2 separate regions of the Homo sapiens genome follow, and region 1 is reported to be linked to region 2. Evidence: microRNA targets listed by miRTarBase, many of them from high-throughput screens and not tested one by one. Region 2 holds a microRNA gene; the other region holds the end of a gene's coding sequence.

Region 1 (3,417 bases), not on the chromosome of region 2:
GAACAGAATCGCTATCTTCTTCCAACTTACCTTTTCTTCCCCACATCTTGCTTGCTTTCTTTGCCAAGAGTGAATAGTTCGAATGACTCTAAATGTGAGCATGGTGAACCTTCACAGCTTAAGGGAGAATTTTCTGATGACTGAGACGTGTGAAGCTCTGTGCCAGGTGTCGGGAGTTTTTAGGTAGGAGACCGGAAATGATGGTCTCAGGTGCTGCAACTCTCAGGAGCCAGTGGCTAGAAAAAGGTGTTTTGATGCGAAATTAGACGTTTTTGTTCTCAATGCCTGGATCTTTGGTCATTCTAGGTCTGTGGGAGGCATCCGGGCCTCTCTGTATAATGCTGTCACAATTGAAGACGTTCAGAAGCTGGCCGCCTTCATGAAAAAATTTTTGGAGATGCATCAGCTATGAACACATCCTAACCAGGATATACTCTGTTCTTGAACAACATACAAAGTTTAAAGTAACTTGGGGATGGCTACAAAAAGTTAACACAGTATTTTTCTCAAATGAACATGTTTATTGCAGATTCTTCTTTTTTGAAAGAACAACAGCAAAACATCCACAACTCTGTAAAGCTGGTGGGACCTAATGTCACCTTAATTCTGACTTGAACTGGAAGCATTTTAAGAAATCTTGTTGCTTTTCTAACAAATTCCCGCGTATTTTGCCTTTGCTGCTACTTTTTCTAGTTAGATTTCAAACTTGCCTGTGGACTTAATAATGCAAGTTGCGATTAATTATTTCTGGAGTCATGGGAACACACAGCACAGAGGGTAGGGGGGCCCTCTAGGTGCTGAATCTACACATCTGTGGGGTCTCCTGGGTTCAGCGGCTGTTGATTCAAGGTCAACATTGACCATTGGAGGAGTGGTTTAAGAGTGCCAGGCGAAGGGCAAACTGTAGATCGATCTTTATGCTGTTATTACAGGAGAAGTGACATACTTTATATATGTTTATATTAGCAAGGTCTGTTTTTAATACCATATACTTTATATTTCTATACATTTATATTTCTAATAATACAGTTATCACTGATATATGTAGACACTTTTAGAATTTATTAAATCCTTGACCTTGTGCATTATAGCATTCCATTAGCAAGAGTTGTACCCCCTCCCCAGTCTTCGCCTTCCTCTTTTTAAGCTGTTTTATGAAAAAGACCTAGAAGTTCTTGATTCATTTTTACCATTCTTTCCATAGGTAGAAGAGAAAGTTGATTGGTTGGTTGTTTTTCAATTATGCCATTAAACTAAACATTTCTGTTAAATTACCCTATCCTTTGTTCTCTACTGTTTTCTTTGTAATGTATGACTACGAGAGTGATACTTTGCTGAAAAGTCTTTCCCCTATTGTTTATCTATTGTCAGTATTTTATGTTGAATATGTAAAGAACATTAAAGTCCTAAAACATCTAAGCCCTTGTCAATGAATTTCTCTACCTGCTTTTTAGACAAATTGTTCTTTATGATGGGAAAGCTTGAGGTCTAAAAATAGCACCTGCTAAGGGTAATTTAGTTCAACCAAAGATCTAAGACTTAATTCTTGTGCATCCATTTAAAAAAATTCAACACGGTGTGGGAGCTTTCCATTTGCTTTTGGAATGGGCATTATCAGCAAACCACCTTCCATTGCAGCTGAAGGTGTAAAGTTCTTTTTTTTTAGATGGAGGCTCGCTTTGTCGCCCAGGCTGGAGAGTGTGGTGGCGCAATCTCGACTCACTGAAACCTCCCCTCCCAGGTTCAAGCAATTCTCCTGCCTCAGCCTCCCGTGTAGCTGGGACTACAGGTGCCAGCCACCATGCATGGCTAATTTTTGTATTTTTAGTAGAGACGGGGTTTCACCATGTTGGTCAGGCTGGTCTCGAACTCCCGACCTTAGGTGATCCGCCCACCTCAGCCTCCCAAAGTGCTGGGATTACAGGCGTGAGCCACCGTGCCCAGCTCTGAAGGTGTAAAGTTCTATGAGCTTTGTCCCATTTGCCCCAGAAACATGCCACTAGGACTGTTTTGAGCTATCTTCCTGGTTTATTTGATTGCATAATGAGGACTCCACCAGTGTCTTGTCCCATCTCTGCACTGGTTAGTTGGCTCCCCTGTTCAGGTCACAGGCTCCAAGGCTTGGTTCTGTCATCTGTAACAGGAGGGTTGAAATAACTCCCCCACCACTTACCTTAAGGATGTTTAAAAGTTTAAAACAAGGGCTCGATGCAGGATGTGAATAATAACCACAATGAAGTTTTAAGTAGCAAAAGCCAGGCAGTCCATGGATTCCAACTAAGTGTTCACACATAAAAGTCATGCTCAGAGTCAGCCTCCCCTCCTTCCTCACCCTTTCATATGTGGTTGCACATCCCTGTCATCTGTATCAGACCTGTGCTTCTCAAATATCTGCTAATTTTCATTCCATTGCCATGTCAGCTCTGCTATGTCAGCCCTCAGTGGATTATTCAGCAGTCTCTTCTCTGCCCCCATATTCCCCTCCCACCACAGCCAGTTGAACTATGACTTCCCCTTGTGCTCTTTGTTGATGCATACAAAGTCCAGTACTCCCAGCCTGGCAGTCAGGACTTTGTAGCATGGGACATGGCCTCTTGCACCTCTCCTGCATTTGTGATTCTTGGAAAGTGGCATGCATTTGCCCACACTATGACATAAGCCTGGAGTTTCTGTGCCCACTCAGGAAGACCAGATGACACCCGCCAACCTCTTCCTAAACTCATTTGTGTCCTTTCCATTGGGACAATGTTCTTTTCCTTTGTTTTCACCAGGGGGATCCTTTTCTCCCATTATACCATCTCTGTTTTGTTCTTTACTATGCCAAGGTGGCTGCATATGTGCCTTCCCCATACAGCAGCATGGAAAGAACGATGGTTCTCTACCTCAAGCACCTAGTGTCCTGCCTTGCCCTTCGAGGTGCCCAGTGAAGTCTGTTCTTTTTAGACACAGGGTCTCGCTTTGTCACCCAGACTGGAGTACAGTGGCGTGATACTAGCTCACTGCAGCTTCGACCTCCTAGGCTGAAGTTATCCTCCTGCCTCAGCCTCCCCAGTAGCTAGGACTACAGGTGTATGTTACTGTGCCTGGCTAACTTTTTAAATTTTTTTGTAGAGACAGGGTCTCGCTATGTTGCCCAGACTAGTCTTGAATTCCTGGCTGCAAGTGATCCTTTTGTCTTGGCCTCCCAAAGTGCTGGGATTGCAGGCAAGAGCCACTGCGTCTGGCTGAATGAAAAATCTTAATGTAGGTCACGTTGGTCTTTCTGAGTACCATAAACTGAGCTTGGAGTAAAGGCAGAGAGGTATGATCTGTCACATAACATGGACCTTTTGTTTTTTTTGATGGAGTCTGTCTCTGTTGTGCAGGCTAGAGTACAGTGGTGTGATCTTGGCTCACTGCAACCTCTGCCTCCTAGGC
Region 2 (3,417 bases):
ACCTCCTTAGATTTGTAGCCTCACTGCCTCCTCCTTAGTCGATTCTTACCTTGCTCATGTTCCTCTACCTGGAATGTCAGACACAGATATATTATTAAACAGAAACAGTGCTGAGGACATCGCACCTGGCCAAAGTTACAATTCATTTGTTAATGGGACGAATAATGTGGCAATTAGCCTTGTTTGAGAGGTTATGACAAGTCATCGAAGGAAGGTTAAAACTTCACATTTGCCAGGGACACTTGTTATAACTGAGGCCAATCTGTCTACAGCAGTTTAGGTGCTCTTCAGAGTTTTGGGCAGTGTGACCAGTATCTGAATTTTACAGGAGTTTTTAAGTGTGACATAACCTTTTAGTAAATGTAGAATATAGTATTGTATACAACTAGGATGGGCTTAAACAGGATGAAACTAAGGTTGGAAGGTAAACTAATCACACATAATATGCAGTTTTATGTACATTTTTGGAGCTCTCTGATGTTCGAGGCACTTAAGAAGTCATACATAATATACATGTTATGTCAAATACTGTACCAGAGGAATAGAGGATTTGCATGTGATACAGACCAAAGGGTATCCAAGCAAGGCGACAGAAAGAATGGCCCTCAGGACAGAGGGAGCAGCAAGACCAGAGACACCAGAGCATGAACATGCTTCCTAGATTTCCCAGGGAGAGGAATCGTTCCCTATCCTGGGGCATAGCAGCTGCAGGGAATGACAGGAGACGTGGCTGGAAAGCTGGGGCCAGATGGCGGAGACTCCTCAGCTCCACGTTAACAACGTGCTCCCTTGGCAAGCCGTACAGATCCTTTGAAGGATTTTGAGCAGAGAAATGACAAGTTTATACTAGAAACAAGCAGCATGGAAGGTAGGCTGCCTGCATGGAGTCTGGAGGAGGAGAGCAGCGCAGAGAATAGTGTAAATTCTTCCTGCAAGTAGTATTGAGGAGGTACAAATGGGAGGATAGAACTGGATTTAAATAGTTTTCAGAGAGAAGAAAGTCAAGTGAAATAGGACAAAGAGTCCAAAGTCAGTCCGTGGTCTCCATTCGGAGAAAAAGGGCTTGGGAAAGAATATATGGAGTTTGGTTTTGAATGAGCCAAAATTGAGGTACCGAAGAACATCCAGGTGGTGAAGCCTATAGGAGATTGGACATTTTTCATGTGATTCTTAGGACAGAAGCTGGCACTGAGACTAGAGATTGGGGTATCATTTGAATAAAGGTGAGAATTTTGTCTTTATGTATAGAGTTCCTTAAGATTCTATCAGAATCCATGTCAAGATACAATTTTTCTGATTAAAATAATTTCTTTTAAAACACTATAATGCAGAAACTTATGTGTAATTATTTTATGTTTTGTAACCTTAATGTTACCGAACTTGTGTTAAATAAGTTTATCTTGTTTGGGTCACAACTTTTATTCCAGAGAAACGCAGTTCTTATTTTGATTTTGCCTTAATACTGATGATTTTTTTTTGAAGTTCTTTAATGTTAAGCATTTTCAGTGTGACTTTTAAAATTGCTTTCCTTAAAAGTGACTGTGAAATTGCTAAGTAGGCTGAGATTGATGTCAGGTTATCCCCAAGCATAACCTCACTCTCACCTTGCTTTGCAGGCATATCTTTTTCTTGCACATCAAGGAGGCCCTCTTGGCAGGCCACCTCTTGTGTTCCCCAGAGCAGGCAGTGGAACTCAGTGCCCTCCTGGCCCAGACCAAGTTTGGAGACTACAACCAGAACACTGCCAAGTATAACTATGAGGAGCTCTGTGCCAAGGAGCTCTCCTCTGCCACCTTGAACAGGTGAGGCTGTTGAATATAGTATTGTTTACAACTAGAATAGGCTTAAACAGGATGAAACTAAGGTTGGAAGGTAAACTAATCACACATAATATGCAGTTTTATGTACATTTTTGAGCTCTCTGATGTTCGAGGCACTTAAGAAGTCATACATAATATACATGTTATGTCAAATACTGTACCAGAGGAATAGAGGATTTGCATGTGATACAGACCAAAGGGTATCCAAGCAAGGGGACAGAAAGAATGGCCATCAGGACAGAGGGAGCAGCAAGACCAGAGACACCAGAGCATGAACATGGCAGCATCAGGGCTACTGCATATATTCATAGAGCTATCAAATGTATAAGCATTTCCAAAAGAAGATGAATCTGTGGTACATACACATAATTTGTGAAGTTAAGACTGGGCCATTGCCCAATTTAACCAAATATTTTCAAAAAATTTGTTAGCCTTTTATTTGAAAAATATGTAAACACAATATGAAATGCTATATAAAATGGGAATTTTTTAAATCTGTGCCTTTAAGTACAAATCTCCTAAAATAAAAAATCTATTATGTATATTGGTGTTTTCTTCATCCCAGCAAGAATTAAACCAGGAGATCTAACATAGGCATTTTAGTTATCTATTCCTGCATAACAAGTTACCCCAAAACTTAGTGACATAAAACAACAAAAATTGTCTCACAGTTCTGTAGGTCAGGAATCTGGCCATGTCTTGGCTGGGTCCTCTGGCTCATGAGACTGTAGTCAAGCTGCAGGTAGAACTCTGTCTCATCTGAAGGCTCGACTGAGGGTGGCCTCCATGCCAGGTTGACTCCTGTGGTTTGTTGGCCTACCTCCTTCCCTGGCCACAGGGGCCTCAGGGGTCAACTTTATACTTATAAACTATATGTGGACAAATGCATGAGACTTTCCAATATGTAAATTTGACTTATGTATATTTTTAGAGACTTTCCATAATTCTTCCAATTCATCACCCATCCAGCATCCCCAAAGTGTTTTTACCAAGTATTTAATAGTTGAGATCCCAGTGTCTTAGACGTTTTTTATAGTAAGTTCGCTAAATACATGAAACATCAGTAATACATAAGTTTTAAGTTGTTGTGATTCATCAGTGTTAGTATATTTCACTCGTGAAGACTACATAGGTTTATCTCTAAAGCTAATATCTGTATACTTAATTCTCTGTCCTCTTGGTGTCCTCCAGCATTGTTGCAAAACATAAGGAGTTGGAGGGGACCAGCCAGGCTTCAGCTGAATACCAAGTTTTGCAGATTGTGTCGGCAATGGAAAACTATGGCATAGAATGGCATTCTGTGCGGGATAGCGAAGGGCAGAAACTGCTCATTGGGGTTGGACCTGAAGGAATCTCAATTTGTAAAGATGACTTTAGCCCAATTAATAGGTAAGCCAAGACTTAACTTTTTTTGACCTAAGCATGTGTATACATCTGTAGCTGTCAATGTAATAGAAAATAGGAAGGGATTTACTCGACAGTCAGCTCTTAGGAATGAAAGATTTCATTTTGGTATGTACATTAATTTTATTCAGGCCTAAATAACCATTTTAAATGTTATTCAAGGTATACAATGTGGCAGAGTTAACGTTTTCCA

What was found. The annotated mature microRNA hsa-miR-4639-5p reads UUGCUAAGUAGGCUGAGAUUGA and lies in region 2 at 1,548-1,569, shown strand. An mRNA with a match to its seed (bases 2 to 7 or 8) in the 3' UTR can be bound and repressed. Matches are read on the target gene's strand: a 7mer-m8 pairs with bases 2 to 8, a 7mer-A1 pairs with bases 2 to 7 and ends in A, and an 8mer does both.
Region 1: the mRNA of PSAT1 is a reported target of hsa-miR-4639-5p. Seed matches in the 3' UTR shown: 7mer-A1 at 963-969 and 7mer-A1 at 1,099-1,105.

The regions. Positions count from the first base shown.
Region 1 is chr9:78,328,675-78,332,091 of GRCh38, forward strand. PSAT1 (phosphoserine aminotransferase 1) reads left to right here. Exons shown (of 9, transcript NM_058179.4): 9 at 307-1,419. The coding sequence ends at 412. Among named protein-coding and RNA genes, the nearest start is that of PSAT1, 33 kb to the left of the region's middle.
Region 2 is chr6:16,140,009-16,143,425 of GRCh38, forward strand. MIR4639 (microRNA 4639) reads left to right here and starts at 1,548; the gene lies at 1,548-1,616. It overlaps MYLIP (myosin regulatory light chain interacting protein), which reads left to right. Exons shown (of 7, transcript NM_013262.4): 3 at 1,617-1,802; 4 at 3,012-3,209.